2 separate regions of the Homo sapiens genome follow, and region 1 is linked to region 2. Evidence: fine-mapped expression QTL. A gene starts in region 2. The other region holds a variant in brackets. All regions are shown on one strand. Distances are from middle to middle. Region 1 overlaps TSC22D2 (TSC22 domain family member 2). Region 2 holds the start of TSC22D2 (TSC22 domain family member 2).

What was found. PIP is the estimated chance that this variant, and not a neighbour inherited with it, causes the effect.
Region 1: its variant is the best candidate, but not a certain one, in a credible set for the expression of TSC22D2 in whole blood (TOPMed, PIP 0.78).

What each region holds. Positions count from the first base shown.
Region 1 is chr3:150,463,328-150,466,249 of GRCh38, reverse strand. TSC22D2 (TSC22 domain family member 2) reads right to left here. Exons shown (of 3, transcript NM_001303264.2): 3 at 1-2,922. Among named protein-coding and RNA genes, the nearest start is that of TSC22D2, 56 kb to the right of the region's middle. The variant T/C (reference allele first, on the strand shown) is at 1,445.
Region 2 is chr3:150,406,524-150,409,445 of GRCh38, reverse strand. TSC22D2 (TSC22 domain family member 2) reads right to left here and starts at 1,148. Exons shown (of 3, transcript NM_001303264.2): 1 at 1-1,148. The coding sequence starts at 95. RefSeq lists an enhancer at 38-87 and a silencer at 458-1,057.

The sequences.
Region 1 (2,922 bases), 57 kb before region 2:
TAGAAGTACACTATACAGTATTTGTGTGTGTGTGTGTGTGTGTGTGTGTGTGTGTGTGATGTGATTTAACATCACTAGTATCATATGTATTACAGGTATTGTCTTTCAATTTTTCCCCCAAACTTTTAACATTGTCTCCTGGAGATCCTTCCATGCCGGACATGTAGGACTCTCTCTTTTTCATTGATACTTAATACTTCATCATGTGTACCATAGTCCATCCTCTTGATGAGTATTTTGGTTTTTCCAATTTCATAGTATTACAGTAGCTCCCCCATCATGGAGGATATTTTCCAAGACCCTCACTGAATGCCTGAAACCATGAATAATACCAAACCCTCTATGTACTATGTTTTTTTATGATCTGATAATAGAAATGACTAATGGGCATTATAAAATGGGTATATAATGAGTGTATACATTGTGGATACACTGGACAAAGGGATGATTCCTGTCCCAGGCAGGATGGAGAGGGATAGTGAGAGATTTTTATTATACTATGCAGAAAGGTTTGAAGTTTAAAACTTATGTTCGTTTCTGGAATTTTCCATTTAATATTTTTGTATTGTGGTTGACCTTGGATGACTGAAACCTCAAAAAGTGAAAATGCAGATAAGGGGGTCTACTGTACAAGCAAAGGTGCAATTGACATCATTGTACAGGCTATCTTGTGAACACATGTATGTTTCTTTAGGACATTAAAAGTTGGAATTGTTAGGTCACAGGGTATGTGACTTTTAAAATTTAATGGGTGATACACAATTGTCTTTAAAAGAGGCTGTGCCAATTTGTATGCTCACTAGCAATGTATTCCTGTTTTTCCACACCCTTTCCAGCTTTTGATTTGTATGCACGCTAAATATTAGTTGGATCTGAGATGGTTTCTTGTGTTTTAATGTGCACTTCCCTTATTTTGCTGAGATTGAGCTTCTCTTTATAACCTATTTGTAAAGTTCTTTGCTTATGTGCATTTTCAAATGGACAGGGTATATAGCTTCATAGCTTCCAATTTCTAAAAGGGAGTAACCAAAAAGTAGAAGACTAACTGCTAGTCTAGCTAGAATTAATTTTTGTGAAAGATCTAACTTTATATTTCTTCTAAATTGTTATGCTATCCCATACTATTTGTTGAATAATCCATTTTTTCCTTACTAATTTGAAATGTCACTTTTATTACTTACTCAACATATTATTTGTGTTTCTGGATTCTCAGCTGTATTAGAGATTTATTTTTGGTATCAGTCACCTGAGTTATTCTTAACTTGGTTCATTAAATGGTAGCTGATTTTGTCAGCCAAGATAATAAGTGTCACTTGTTGCTTATGAGACAATAGACAATATAATTCATGACACATGAATCCTATTCTAGTTAACTTTGATTTAAATCAATTTCATTATCTACAACTTAGAGTATTAAAAATGTGTAAACTTTTCTCAGATTAGT[T/C]CCTCTTTTTTAGGGAATACTTCATAGGCTCGATGTCGAGGTGGAAGGCTTTTCCCCTCCTTCTAAAAGTATTATTTGATGTTAAAGCTTTCTGGTGATTTAAAGTTGTTTCCTGGCAATATCAAAGGATTTTTACATGGGATGGCAATATTACTGTTGATTTATAAAAACCTTTCATTTAACAAATGATATAAGGTTCACAAACTATAACATATACTCTGAATAAACAATATGGCACTTTAACTTTTACACTTACACTGGACTGAGCTCATTGGAGCACACAAATCATGTCCCATTCATCTTTCTATCCCCAAACATCCAGTACAGGTTGCAGCACCTAAATTGAAATAGAATTAAATTGCATGTCAACATTTTTTTTATAAAATAAAAAAAAGAAACCTAAATTTCTTGAAAACATCACTTTTAGGGTTTTACAAAGTCATACATGTTTCTTTTTATTAGCCACTGACCTGTTATTATTTCCATCTCAAGTGTGGGGAAAATGTTCCCTTGCTGTCTCTGATCTTCCTCAGGTATGATATGACCTATCTATAGATACATTGCATGCCTGTGAAATGACAGCAAGAACTGTGATCCGGATAACATTTGGATTGCAGCAGGCAAGAGTATTTTACAGTTGTTATATGGAAATATTGTAGGCATGCAAAAGAATGGAGAGATGAACTTAACTTTTTTATGGAGAAGTTGAACTGTGGCATTTGCCTTGTTTTAAAATTCAGTTGTTTTTATGATCTAAGTTAGCACACCTTTCCCTTCCCTCCAAGGGGATAAATATGGCTTCTGTGGACAATGTTGTAGTCTGTAAACTTAAATACTATGGACCCATGACAGTAGACAATGGGAAAATTCCCCAAACTGCCTAGTCTATCAGTTTCCCTGCTGAGAATGAAAAATAAAGCTAACTCACTCACCATCCAGGTATGCTGAACAAATTCAACAACTAAATGGACTGCGCCAGTGCAAAATACCAGCGTCTTACTTTGCCATCACCAATCTGAAAATCTGTCTTATTTTTCTTATTTGATGATTCCATGGCGGGGTTCGGGGGGGTGGTGGGCAAGCAAGAATGTCTGTGAACTTTAACTTGCTTCAGAGTGCCTCACTTAGCATTTTCATCTATGAACACAGCATGTCATACCAATTGTACTCCACAAAAGATATAGTTACAGTAGCACTTGTATAAAGTAATCCTTGCAACCTATGAAGGAAAGCCATACATTTAAAGGGATCTTGCTGTAGAAATTCTGTGAACTGGTACAGAAATACAGGACAAAGATGTATCCTGAAATATTGAAAAGGAGTAAATGGGGTGCAAGTATACATCACTAAATAATAAACTATTACTATTGCTAGAAAATAGAAATATGGATTATTAAGAGGCTTGAAGCAGAAGGAGGTGGGAGAAAAGGTCTGGTTTTGGATAGGCAGGAGACTTAGAAAAAAGAAGCCTGCAGGAC
Region 2 (2,922 bases):
CTCTCGGTGTCCTCGGTGATGCTAGTGGCCACCTGGGCCGTGGTGACACTGGTGATCTGGAAGCAGCTCTTCTTCTTGGCCGGCATCTTGGACATGGTGAAGAAGGCTGGAGGGCAGAGAGGCACGCCGGCTCCTCTGGGTCCTGTCGGAAACCGGGGAGGGCAGAGCACGGGCCCCCAAAGACAAAGTCCGAGTCTGCGCTGGGGTCTGAGGCCCGCCGCTGTTAAGAGTCACGGGCTGATCCAGGCGCTGGCCGCCCGGTGAGACATCCTCCTCCTCGTTTCCTTCTCTGTGTCGGTCTCTTCGGCTCTGCCCCCGTCTCAGTCCCGCGGCGGCTCCTCCTTCCTTTTTAGCTCTCGCAGCCGCGGCGCCTCAATTCAATTCCCTCAGAGGCGGCGAGAGCGCGAACCCAGGGGCGGGCCGGCTGCTTCCTCTCTCGTCTCCGGGCAGCCGTGGTCAGTCCAGCTCGGCGCTCGGCGCGGTCAGCAGGCCTTGGCTGGGGGTGGGAGTGGGAGGGCGAAGAGGAGGAGGAGGAGGCGGTGGCGGCGGCGTGAGGGGCGGTGCTGCCCCGCTCGGGCTCCTCAGGCCGGTGCCGGCGTCAGCGCTGGGCTCTCTGACTGAGGGAAGGAGCGGCGAGTCCGGAGTCGGAGATGCCTAATTCAGCCGGGAGCCGCGGGCCGGAGCTGGCTGAAGGTCCGCGGGCGGGCGGTGGGGCTGTGGCGCGGGCAGGCGGCCCTCCCTCCCCGGCTCTAGCCGGAGCTCAGCCCCAGGGACATGTCGACTGCCTCAGGCGGAAACCCGCTCTGGGGGAGGGGAAAGCCGGCTCGGTCCTCCCCTTACAGGGGGAACCACCCCTGCGGGCGGGCGGCGACGGCGGTCTCGGCCTCCCCTCGCGGCTTCTCTCAGAGAGGGGCGGCGGCGGCAGACCGCTGGCACGGGACCGGAGGCGCCCCGGCTGTGTGAGGTAGCGGTGGTGGCTTCTCCGGCTCCTCCTCGGTGCGCCCAATTCCTAAACCCCGAAGAAACTGAAATTCAAACTGCTGAAGCGGCGGCTGCAGCTCCCTCCGCTGGGCCAAGATGGGGCTGAAATGGCCGCGCCAGGGATGCTGGGAGGAGCAGCAGCCCCGCTGCCGCCGCCGCTGCCGACTAAAATGCCGCCGCTGCCGCAGCCACCGCCAGCGCCGCAGCCGCCGCCGTTCCGTGACGCACCGGCGTCGTGACGTCACCGCTCCGCCCCCTCCGGTTTCCTGCAGTTTCGCGTGGAACCTGGGGTGGGGGGCAATGGGCGGGGCTAAAGGTTAAAAAAGGGAGCGGTTTCTTTATTTAAAATTTTTAAAATTTAAATTTTGTGTTGTAGGTTCTTTAAGCATTGACGAGCTAAAGACCATTTTAAATTCTAAGCCTAGGGAAGCTTACAATGGAACTAATCAGATGTTTTTATGTCGGTTTGTTCCGAGACAGTGGAAGACTGGAGGTCATGTGCTTGTGTCTAATGTTTAGCAAAATCTTAGTGAAACGAGGGCGATAGGAATGGGGGCTGGGGAAGACTTAGATGGGATAAAAAGAGGTGCGGCTGGAAGAACTAAATCACTTTAAAACTTCTGAAAATAAATGTTGACCATTGTAGTCAGAGGAGTAAAATGTTCAGAGAAATGGGGATGATTAAACAAGAACGGCAAGCCAGATTGAGTCAGAAAATTATCTTCCTGCCAGAAATTCTGTCTCCCACAACGGCATCAGGGGGTGGTTACTTGCCCAGGGTGTAGTCAGTTTTTAAAAAGCTTAAGGGTTACCAACATATTCCTAAATTTCCTGAATTTGCTGTGATTCCAGGATTCATTTAAACTCTTGAGACTGTTTTACTTTCGGCACGAAATCAGCTCATGGGCTTTATAAATGTAGAACCTACTGCATTATAGTTCTTCTTTTTGTTTATTCTAAAACTGTTAGTAGCAGCCAGCGTATTATATGATTTGGATTGGGCCATGAACAACCGTAACGAGTGATAAAGCACCCTTTCCTGTTCCAATGCAAAGAACAACTATGAAAAGAAAGTACTGGCAAATTTATCATCTTGTAGTTAGTTCCTGGCCAAAGAAAATGGTAAGGCCATTCTTTTAAGCAGTTAAAAAAAAATGGGGATGGGCTCTTAAACTTTGGCATGCTAAGGCCATTCTTTTAAGCAGTTTAAAAAAATGGGGATGGGCTCCTAAACTTTGACATACTAAAGCAGTCGTCATTTAGGTAAAATCTAAGTCTTAATGGAAATCGTGATTTCATATCTACTGCAGCGTTAGCAATCACATAATGATAACTTAAATCAGTAAATCGTTGAACTCGGTTCTCTAATCTTTGAAGAATAGAAATACTTTTTATCCCAAAAGATGTTTTGAGAATTAAATTTGCAGAGAATTTTTTAGGTCTTTAGTTGTAATTTATAGAGCTAGGTCTTTTAACTTTAGTGGAAACCATGCCCTCCAAACCCAAGTGACTGGAGTCAGAATGTGAAATAAGACGACATAAAATCCCTATTTCTTAAGGGGCTGGGCGAAAGTAATGGAACAAAATGTAACGTTATGCTATTGTGGCAGAGATAGCTAATGGAATGTTTCATTTCTAAGTCTGTAATTTCAGTAATTGTTAGAGGCAGTTTTCCATCAATAAGTTAGATCAAATGGTTAAACCCAATATGAATTTATAAAAGCTTAATTTAATTTTGGATTGATTTACCAGATGTTTAAGGTGGTTATAATGGGTAGTGTTGATGGTGGTGCTTTTGGAAAAATGAGTATTATATGCCTGCTCATCCCTTTACATTATCTTATCATATAAACTTCTTGATTACTCGTTATGATACTCTTAAATCGTACATTTAGAGGAAAAATCTTAAAGTAATCTGTAAGACCATTTCTCCTTAAAATG